Linked DNA regions of Homo sapiens. The protein of the gene in region 3 purifies or fractionates together with the protein of the main gene of each other region. This does not show direct contact. Each region holds a gene or a part of one and is shown on either strand. Other genes may lie near its edges.

Region 1 (3,648 bases), on a different chromosome or scaffold from region 3:
AGCAATCTTCCCACCTCGGCCTCTTAAAGTGATGGGATTACAGGCATGAGCCACCACGCCTGGTCCTTAATTTAAGAAAAAAAAAGTAAAAAAACAAATAAAAGGCCGGGCATGGTGGCTCATGCCTGTAATCCCAGCACTTTGGGAGGCCAAGGCGGGCGGATCACCTGAGGTCGGTTGTTGGAGACCAGCCTGGCCAACATGATGAAAACCCGTCTCTACTAAAAATACAAAAATTAGCCGGGCGCGATGGCAGGCGCCTGTAATCCCAGCTACTCGGGAAGCTGAGGCAGGAGAATCGCTTGAATCCAGGAGGTGGAGGTTGCAGTGAGATCAAGCCACTGCACTCCAGCCTGGGTGACAGAGCAAGACTCCATCTCAAAAAACAAACAAAAATAAATAAAAACTACCTCAAAAAGTGGGGAGAGGGGGCATCACCAGGCTGGTGTTCTGTGCGGTGTGGATTCTCATGGAAACGTTTAGATTGAGCCCTGCCTGCCGGGTTTTTCTTATGGCCTCAGGATTTATTCTGGAAGCAGAGACCTCAGAGGGCTGCACAGGCCCGTGCCAAGCCCCCTTCCTTCCTACCATCTGTATCCCAGGCACTCCTAGTCTATCTCTAGAACTGACCTCTCTCCTGAACTGTAGACTCCCCTCTCCATCTGCTCCCAGGCGCCATGGGTTGAGGTGGCTGACTCCACACTCCTGACCCTCCAAGCCTCACCCTCCTTGGCCTCCCTCTTCTCCCTTGGCCCCCTCATCAAAAATCAGCTCTGTGTTTTCTCTCCCCTATATCTCCCCTAACCTGCATCTGATCACTTCTTCGAACTCCACTGCCAACATTTTGGACCAAACCACCCACCCTTTGGTGCACGCTTGGCCCAGCTCTTCAGTCTCCAGGCTCCTGCCTTCCACTGATCCCCGCTTTCCCCAAATCTGTCCTCCTGCAGAAGCCACCAGAGGGCGCCTGTGTGCACCTGAATCCGGTCCCCTCCCTCCTATACTAGGAACCCTTCCGGGATCCCAGCTCAATAGCAGTAAAATCAAAGTTCTTCATGGGGTCCCCTTCGACTCCTCACTCCACCCCAGCTTACTGGGCTGTGCCAAAAATGTGTCCTCAGCCTGGATCAATCATCCCCAATCTTCCCCACCTCCTGCTTGTCACCCATCTCAGACTTTCCTGATCTCCTGTCTAAAGCAGCTTCCGCAGCCAGCCAGCATGGTGGCTCACACCTGTAATCCCAGTGGATCACCTGAGGTCAGGAGTTTGAGACCAGCCTGGCCAGCATGGTGAAACCCCCGTCTCTACTAAAAATACAAAAATCAGCTGGGTGTGGTAGCATGTGCCTGTAATCCCAGCTGCCCGGGAGGCTGAGGCATGAGAATTGCTTGAACCCGGGAGTCGGAAGTTGTGTGAGCCGAGATCACACCACTGTGCTCCAGCCTGGGCGACAGAGCTAGACTCTGTCTTGAAAAAAAACAAATCCCTCCCTCTGCTTTTGGGGGATATTGTTCCCCATTGTCACACAGTGTCAGGGCTGGGATTTAAACCTGGGTCTATGGGACTCTCTGCACAGCTACATTTTGGGGTAGCCTTGGCATTTGTACTTTTTCATTTTTATCTGTTTGTTTGTTTTAGATGGAGTTTTGCTCTTGTGGCCCAGGCTGGAGTGCAATGCCTCAATCTTGGCTCACTGCTACCTCCACCTCCTGGGTCCAAGTGATTCTCCTGTCTCAGCCTCCCAAGTAGCTGAGATTACAAGCATGCACCACCACGCCCAGCTAATTTTTTGTATTTAGCAGAGATGAGGTTTCACCATATTGGTCAGGCTGGTCTCAAACTCCTGACCCACACCCGCCTCGGCCTTCCAAAGTGCTGGGATTACAGACGTGAGTCACCGCACCCAGCAACTTCATGCTTTTCTTTATACCCAGAGGGGACCGACCACAGCCTGTCACAGATTGTGACACAGATTGTCACAAGCCTCTATGAGAGGCCACCAGGTCACCCTGAATCCTCTGTCACCATTCTGAGGGGCTGTCATGACTGAGACCAAAGGCAGCACTGACCAGGCCAGGACATACCACCAAGGGGCCTGCCTGCCTGTGGCCACAAGACAGCCTGACGTCACCACCTTCAATTAACACACCCCCTGGGATTTTTTCACAGCCAACTCTCGGCTCACTACTGAGTCCCTGTTCAGTGATTCTGGGCTTTTCCTAGCCCCCCCGCAGCTTAGAGACAGCAGGTCAACTTAGCCTCGTGGTGCCCCTTGAGCCCGCCCCGTTCTCCCGGTAGGACGGTCAGCAGAAAACCGGTTCCAAGAAAAAGAACCACTCACCGCGGAGACGGTAAACAGGGAGTTATCGAAGGACATGTCTGAAACAGAAAGAGAAAGAAAACCCAGGATTGGGGGCCAGTTGTAACTTCCCTGCTCCCTGCCATCCCCGCACTGCCCCCCAGCCCACAGGGAAGCAATTGGGGTCCATCTCCCAGCATCCTCTATGGCGCCTTTCCAACCCATTCTGCACGGTGAACTGTTCACAGCTACAAAGTGAACCAAGTCCTTCTACACACAGTCTTCCTAGGGGTATCTCTCACTGCCCTCAGGAAAATGGGTGTCTTATCTCAGGCCTTCCAGAAGGAGCACCTGCCAGCTCCTCCTCCTCCCCAGGCTCTCCTCCAATTGCTCCATCACCCATTTTTTTTTTCTTGTTTTTGAGAAGGAGTCTCACTCTGTTGCCCAGGCTGGAGTGCAATGACAGGATCTCGGCTCAATGCAACTTCCGCCTCCTGGGTTCAAGTGATTGTCCTGCCTCAGCCTCCTAATAGCTGGGATTACAGGCATGCACCACTACACCTAGCTAATTTTCATATTCTTAGTAGAGATAGGGATTCACCATGTTGGCCAGGTTGGTCTTGAACTCCTTGCCCCAAGAGATCTGCCTGCCTCGGCCTCCCAAAATGCTGGGATTACAGGTGTGAGCCACCACACCCGGCCTCCATTACCCATTCTTGTAGGTCTCTGCTTAAACATCACTTCTAGCCAGGTGAGGTGGCTCACGGCTGTAATCCCAACGCTTTGGAAGGCCAAGGAGGGAGGATCACTTGAGCCCAGGAGTTCAAGACCAGCCTGGGCAACATAATTTTTTGTCTCTAGAAAAAAAAATTTAAAAAGTAGCTGAGTGTGGTGGTGTATGCCTGTGGTCCCAGCTACTCAGGAGGCTGAGAGGGGAGGATCACTTCAGCCTAGGAGGTCGAGGCTGCAGTGAGCTATGATTGCGCCACTGCGTTCCTGTCTGGGTGACAGAGCAAGACTCTGTCTCAAAAAAAAAAAAAAAAAAAAACAGGCTGGGCGCGGTGGCTCATGCCTGTAATCCCAGCACTTTAGGAGGCTGAGGCGGGCAGATCACGAGGTCAGGAGATCGAGACCATCCTGGCTAACATGGTGAAATCCCATCTCTACTAAAAAAATACAAAAAATTAGCCGGGTGTGGTGGCGGGCGCCTGTAGTCCCAGCTACTCAGGAGGCTGAGGCAGGAGAATGGCTTGAACCCAGGAGGCAGAGCTTGCAGTGAGCCCAGATCGCGTCACCGCACTCCAGCCTGGGCGACAGAGTGAGACTCCGCCTCAAAACAAAAACAAAC
Region 2 (3,648 bases), on a different chromosome or scaffold from region 3:
GCCCTGTGGAGTTGGGTGGGGCAGGGCTCAGCCGGGCCGGGTGGGCGCCCCAAGAGAGAGGACGGGCTGCCCTCCTGTTGATTTCTCCTGGTCCTAACGTCAGGGGGGCCCTGACTGGCTTCCCTCTGTCCTGCAGATGAGGGGGCTACCCTTATGGGACCTGGGAGGCCGCCCTGATGTGGGACGGATGTCACCCGGTGGTCGCCCAGGCTCGTGCTGGGCCACACAACTGCGTTTCCACATTTCCTCCTTGGCTCCCCTATTCTCTTGGGCCGGGCGCAGTGGCTCACGCCTTAATCCCAGCACTTTGGGAGGCCGAGGCGGGCCCATCACGAGGTCAGGAGATCGAGACCATCCTGGCTAACATGGTGAAACCCTGTCTCTACTAAAAATACAAAAAATTAGCCAGGCGTGTTGGCGGGCGCCTGTAGTCCCAGCTATGGGAGGCTGAGGCAGGAGAATGGCGTGAACCCGGGAGGCGGAGCTTGCAGGGAGCAGAGATCAGGCCACTGCAGTCCAGCCTGGGCGACAGAGCGAGACTCCGTCTCAAAAAAAAAAAAAAAAAAAAAAGTGGATCCACTATACGGCTGAAACACATTTTGCACAAGATTATCTAAATGCTGGAGTTTAAATCGAGTCAATGACAACACGACTCCAATTCCAGGTATGGGGTTTAGTGGACAACCAGCTTGACGGAGTCAGGACCGCGCTGACCTGCCCGACACGGTGCTCGGGCATCTGGAAGGAGGAAGCCGGCGTCTCAGCCCCGCAGAAGCCCCGAACCGTGGGCCTCCCGCCGCGTCCGACAGGCAGGGGTGGGGCTAGATGACCGAGGTCTCCGTTTGCAGGAAGGACTGGGCGCGGGAGCCGCGGTGGAACTGCAGGGCGCCCTCCGAGCCGTTGCGGGAGAAGGAGGAACCGCAGACCCTGTAATCCCGGCTCGCGGACGGGGTCGGGCACCGGCTTCGCCATTTTCGCTTCAGCTCGCACTGCACCTGGGAGGTGAGGGCAGCGGGAACGCCCGTGAGCCTGGGCAGGTGCGGGCGGCTGCTATGGGAAGCGCGGCCCGCGAGCCTCCAGCTCTCCCTCCCGCCTGCTCCCGTATCTGTGTTGCCAGCAGATGGACAGAAACAGAAACGGCCTTGGGGGCAGAGGCTGGAGGGAGCGGGAACTGGACGGCCACAGGAGGGCGGGGGACGCTGCCAGACTCTAAGACTGTGCGTGGGTGGTTCGGGGATCGCCACTGCCGCGGTAAGCGCAGTCCCACAGTCTCAGATAGTTAATATTTCTCTGAAAAGATTTTCCTTAGCAGCCGGGGTTGTGACGGTGCTGGGCCTCCGTCTCCTTCCCTGTTCCCAGCGGGCAGGGAATGTTAGCCCTGGGAGGGGGTGGGGATGAGTGAGGGGTGCCCGGACGGCAGAGGAGGGAGGAGGACAAGTGGCACTACTCGGGCTCAGCTTTGCAGAAGCCGTGCTGGTGAAAGCTGCATGTCAAGCAAAGAAAGCGCCAGCAACCGCAGCGTGGGGCGGGAGGGTCAGGGGTCAGGGGACGGGGCCAGGCCGTTGGAGCAGCCCGGAGACAGCCTCCCTGGCTGGGAATGAACGCAGGGCAGAGCTCGGCTCCGGGCTTCCTCCCCAGGGACTCACAGGACGCTGTGCAGCCCCACCCCCCAACCCAGGCCCGGCTTTCTGGGACTCACAAGCTATGGTCAGGAGCGAGACGCCGACCATGGGGAAAAACAGATTCTGTCTAGACCCGGCCGGGAGCTTTCCCGAGAGGGCTCCGAGACGGACGGCAGTCGATGCTACTTAGGGTGGACGGAAGGACGGCGGGGTTTGGAAGCTGGGCCCAGAAGAGTGGGTTTGCCTGTGTCGTTGTGGGTTCTCTGATGGGGACACAGAACTGTGGGGTCCCGGGCAGTAACTCGAGCCCGCGGAAGACAGGCATGTGTGGGGGCTGCGGCACCAGGCTGGGCAGCATCTCAGGAAGCAAGTGAGTACCTGTGCTTGGTTCCAAGGCGGCCATGAACTTACCTCACTGTTCAGGAAACAGTAGAGGACGGCCACCACCAGGCCCTGCAATGAGAAGAGATGGTCAGGCAGGACCCGCGCTCGGGGGAGGGCGGCCGCCTCCGCACACCTACCTGGAACGACCCGAGGCACAGCTCAAACAGTATCTGGTATTTGGAGGAGATGCTGATGGGAAACACGGCAAACACCATGTAGTGGACGCCGAACAGCGGGATAAGCAGGAGCGTGGACTTGGCCAGCCTCCTGCACAGAAGGAGATGAGCCAGCTCAGCTGCTGGACCCTCGGACCCTCTGCAAGCCTGGCTGGGTCCTTCTCAGGAGGGGGCAGCTGGGTGTGGGAGGGGCTCCACACCTCCTCTCCACTGCTGGAGTCCCCGCCCAACAAGAAAAACCACTGTTTCTTTACGTTTATGTCTGAGGCCCCTGTGCATATCTAGCACTCAGGGCCTGGGAACGTGCATTCCGGAAGTGTCCGTTTCTCCCAAATTCCCTCACAAGGACACACGCTGTGTCCTGGGGTTCATGGCTGGCAGGGGCAAGATTCCCTGTGAGTGACCCCAAACCTACACAGGCCCCGCCTGGGAGCCCGGCCCATCCTGAGGCAGGCATGGGACAAGAAGGCTGGCCTCCACCGCTGCCACACGCAGGTTTAAATGATGAGAACCGATCCTGCTCCCGGACCTGCAGCTCGTAACAGCTGGGCTCCGTGGGAGCCAGGTCCCTCAGTCAGCGGCAGAGGACCTGCCTGATTCCCTCTATTAACGCATCTGAAGTTTGCTGGAAAAGAGGCCTATCTGCGGCTGAGCTCTTGGCCCCTATCCAGGGAGGTTTTGCTACTTCTGTGACCAGAGTTACACAGAAAGGACCTCGTGTGGCCTCAAGGGTGTCTCGGCCTTTTCTGTTGTCCTGGAAAGGGAACAGATTTTGTTTCCAAATAAAAGCATCCATCTCCAAGTTCAATTTAACAAACACTCCCAAAGAACCAATGCAAAGGTCAGCATAGAAACTAAACAAGATTCACAGGAAATCCAAGTTCAACCTGAAAGGCAACCAAGAACGATCTTATTCGGGGGTCTCTGCCACACAGGCACCACCGGACTCCCCTGAGCAGGGACAAGGTCATGCTGCCATGCGGGGTCTGACATGGAATCCCATCCCTCGTGTGGGCAAGCAGAGACGGGATACTCCCTGGATTTAGACACTACACAGCAGAATTAGATTCTCTGGTTTACCAGACTCTTTTGCAATACTCTGGTGCCAGGCAGCAAATATCCGGCAAATATAGACTGCATTGATCCTCCTGACCTTAGTGACATTATTACTTCCATGTTACAGATGGGGAAGCTGAGGCATGGAGTGGCAAAGTGACTTCCCTCAGGGCACTGGCCGGTATCTGCACCCAGCTTTGGGGCTGTTGGCCATGCTCCTGTCTAACCGCCCCTCCCCAAATCCATCCCTGTTTTCTAAGGTGGGAGAAAAGGGAAATGCAGGCCAGGCACCCTCCTAGGCTGGGCGGCAGGGTTCCTGCCATGGTACAGCTCTGTGCACAGCCGCCCTTCCACCCCCGGTCAGTCTGAGCCCGAGGCACCTTCTGGGCTGGGCCAACCACTTCCACACC
Region 3 (3,903 bases):
TGGGCTGACTATTGCAGATAGCAGGGGCAGGGTGTGGATAGAGTTCTGCTTTTACATATGATCTGGCCATTGTCCATTTACATATTGCCTCTCAGTAATGAAGGGGAGACAGGGAACACAACCTAAATGGTTCTGGGAAAGGTGTCCTATAGAGAGAAGGCAGCAAGAGAAAGACGTTTCTAGTTTTGCCAGTTACGTCCTCTCGGTCACTATTGGTCATATAACGAGTATTTTAAAAAGGAAATGAATGGAATATGCTACATTTATAAGTGCTATTGCAGATATTTTAACACATTTCATTAAACTAGTAGGTGAAATCAAACATTATTCAAAAGTCTGGTAAAAAGTGGTAAAATTTGCTAGATTGATGAAAAGAATAGGATTTGGGCTGAGTTTAATAACTAGCTTTTCTGATCTGTAACCTTAATACACTGAATATAATTTTTAAAAATCCATAGCAAATCTCTGAAGTGAAGGCTGTGAAAAATCTACACAAAAGCACACATTTATCTAAGTGATACACAACTGGCCACTAGTAAATAGCAGATATATGTTCTCTTCCTTAAAAACGTTAAGACAATATAGAATAGACCATACTATTGTTTGTAAAAATGAATTTATTAAAATGCTCATAATTATAAAAGAATATTAAAATGCACAGAAATTAACATTAATAATTATAAAAGAATATTAAAATGCACAGAAATTAACATTAATTACAAACTTTACATCTTATGCCACAATGTGTGAAAAGCATCATGAATAGTTCTACTTCAGTTAAGCTGCTCATACATTTTTACCCTCTCAAACATAATATGAACATAAAATGGTACAAGAAGTGTTTCAACAAGAGTACATTCTGACCCCCATTGTGAATTAATGTTTTATGAAATTCAAGGCACACATGCAATAAAAAAGGGAAGACTTTGGTGACAGTTTATAAGATGGCCTTGTTTAGTTTTAAAATAAAAATGATAGCTTTCCCTTTCTAATGATATATAGCTAAATTATCTGAGGGATGTTTAATGAAAAATCCCCTGAGTATTTGCTCTAATGTTTCAATATGCTAAAATTCACAGGCATTAAAAAAGGATATAAAGCTCAGTTTCTCTAGTGGTTAACACTGGACAGGCTGAAGGCTAGATTCTCCCTCTTCACAGGTCCACTGCCACACCCATCAATTTCCCCAGGGCTGCTGCCTCTGAAGCCACTTACAGATGCAGCCACCATTGTCTGCAGACACAGCTCCATGCTTTTCTTTATCACTGCAAGTCAGCCGTGGACTCACTAACAAACACTGTGGATGGCATGGGGAAATGACCCTGCATCTCCACTACAACTTTGCTCTTTTGGGCATCTTAACAGTGTCAGATATTACATTTGGTGCCTTTCAATATGTAGAGGGTTTTTTTTCCCCTCCTGTCCACAGCAGCACATTTAATCTATGAAGAGGATTTTCTCTGCTGGGGCTATGAAAACAAATGCACATTTCTTTTAAGTTCTATCATACATACAGGAGATAAGGTAAAAACATTTCCTTTTCTATGCTGACATACATGGCGAGTAACTGCCAAATTTAAACACTAGGAGATAGTCACACACTTCAGAGAAGAGAAGAGGTACTAGAGAGGAAGTGACACCCGCTTCCAGAAGCAGTATCTCAGGAGTGAAGAGAGGAACAGTGGCACTCCCGTCTTGGCTGCGAATGAGAAAGAGTTTCCTTCAGTGGGAAGAAATTCATTTCTCCATCCCAGTGCAGTCAGACTTCATGGGGCCTGTCTTGAACTCTGATTGCATCATTAACACGATCAAGAGAGACAGTGAAATGGGGTCCCGGATCCACTGGGACAATTCAAAAGCCTACAATACTGCTTTGATGGATCCTACATAATTACTTACAAATCATTCATGGCAGGCATTTGAAATCAATCATGACCTAGAGTTACGCTACTTTATTGTAAAAAGCCTCTAAAATCTGAGTTTTCCTTTGCTGCTGGGATTCTGATAGGTTGGCTCCTCTGGTGTTTAACAGCATCCCAGTGAAGCCCATGCAGCATGACCATGATGCAAATCACCTCCCTCTTGTGCACCCAGCAATGACCTGTTACCAGTAGGGGTGAGAGGGCCTGGCTCCCTGTCTTTTCCAGAGCGCCCAGGAGGCCTGACACTTACAAGGCAATAAAGTGAAGTAGACTGCTAGGCTGAGCAAAAGTGAGGGGGCAAGACGTGCATGGCAAGACAGGAGTGCAGCAGGAAGTAATCTCCAGATAATGGTAGGGTTTGTGACCAAACCCTTTTCCTTTATTACTCTTAACTGCCTGATTGGCTCTAGAGGAGGCTAAAAAATCAAATCTAATCTGAGTCTCTTTACTTGATTATGAATAAGCTGGGTATACTCCTGTCTCTAGTACAATCAGACAGTTACATCAAATTACTGGGCCCAGAGTAACAGGATGGAGGATGCAAGGAAGCCACATTCTTTATGGCAGAGACTTTGGTGTGTTGATCACTTTGGCATACAGAAATAAGCCAATTCCTGCAGACTCCTTGACAAAAGGCACTCCCCACCCAATGACCACAATGAGGGCACTTGCTGTTTCTGCCCATGCACACAGTTGTACCCCAATGGCTGTGTAGTGAGCCATTCACAAAGGCAGCTGGTGATGTGTAATACTGCACCTTCTGTATCTAATGAATAAAAGTCAACTGGTAGAAAATTGAGGGGCTTATCTTTTCCAGACAATTATGTTGATAAAAATGTAATTTTAATCATGTGATATCACTGTTTTCCAAGAAACTACACATCTTTAGAAAAGATTAATTATCCAGATCAACATGAGTTAAAATGCTGTTTGAATCTGTAACTTTCCCTGCTTTTGTCATTTTATTCCCTTGAGATCTGCAAAGCAGTCAACATTGATTAGGCACGGAACCTCCTAGGAGTGCTCCTGGAAGATAAAAAGTGTCACTGTGGATTAGGACAAATATGCTTCAAAACCTTGCTATCTTCACTCCAACCTACTAAGAGTATTTTTTTGAGATGGAAAGACATGCTCAAATGAAGACTGAAACTATTTCCTCTGATTAACTGAGGTTTCCTTTCTGGAGGTATTGAAAATACACCTAAATATTGTGAATCCTTGAGTCTAGTTAGCTATTTTTAATCACATGAAAGCTATTAAATTAAATCTATAATGATGGTACTGTAAGGAAAAGATGACCCTGGAACAGATCTAGCCAAGTGAAGAAATGAAACATGGCTTAAAAATAAAGGAGATCATGCGCCTGAGAATAGACAGAAATGAAAATAATCAAACAGAAAAAAAAGAATCCATTCTACTTTAGAAGGGGTGGTTTTTAAGCACACTGAGGGACTTTTTCTGTAAAATTCCAATTTATCAGAAAAAGGTAACATTGAGGTTTTCCGGGTGATAAGTTTTATGCCCTTCATGATCTAAGTTTTACATTTTCCAGTTTCTGCATCGCTAGCTGAAACTGAAAAATAATACATGAGGAAATGGCAATAGTTGAGACTCATATTTGCCAAAGTGATTTAACTTACACATTCTCATTAGTGATTCCTAATATATTTTGACAAAGCTAAATTCCTTAAAGTGCTTCTCAGAACATAAAGCTCTTATTCTGATTTTGGCCGTAAATTGTTATCTACTGCTTCTATCATCCGCTCAGCTATCACCCCCATATTTTTCGTCATATCTTTGAGGTGATTCTCATGAAGAAGCTTTTGGGTTAGGTATTTTTCTCTCTGGATCTTGCTCTTTGTGCGTTTTGATACATCGGGAATTGCATATGAAATGAAAAATTTCACAGAGTAGATGACGTGCTGGGGAAGAGAAGAAGAAAAATGTCACTCACAAAGAAATGGAGGAGAACACCGAGTTC

Evidence for each region.
Region 1: the proteins of ANO6 (region 3) and C19orf38 purify together in Homo sapiens (co-immunoprecipitation; one large-scale study listed by IntAct). This does not show direct contact.
Region 2: the proteins of ANO6 (region 3) and VIPR2 purify together in Homo sapiens (co-immunoprecipitation; one large-scale study listed by IntAct). This does not show direct contact.

What each region holds. Positions count from the first base shown.
Region 1 is NC_000019.10:10,861,902-10,865,549, reverse strand, and holds part of C19orf38 (protein HIDE1 precursor), read right to left. Parts: intron 2,381-3,648; coding exon 2,343-2,380; intron 1-2,342.
Region 2 is NC_000007.14:159,029,795-159,033,442, forward strand, and holds part of VIPR2 (vasoactive intestinal polypeptide receptor 2 isoform 1 precursor), read right to left. Parts: intron 2,274-3,648; coding exon 2,144-2,273; intron 2,076-2,143; coding exon 2,034-2,075; exon of another isoform or gene 1,700-2,033; intron 996-1,699; coding exon 822-995; 3' UTR 1-821. UniProt on the Homo sapiens protein: G protein-coupled receptor activated by the neuropeptides vasoactive intestinal peptide (VIP) and pituitary adenylate cyclase-activating polypeptide (ADCYAP1/PACAP).
Region 3 is NC_000012.12:45,429,046-45,432,948, reverse strand, and holds the end of ANO6 (anoctamin-6), read right to left. Parts: intron 3,845-3,903; coding exon 3,638-3,844; 3' UTR 600-3,637; downstream 1-599. UniProt on the Homo sapiens protein: Small-conductance calcium-activated nonselective cation (SCAN) channel which acts as a regulator of phospholipid scrambling in platelets and osteoblasts.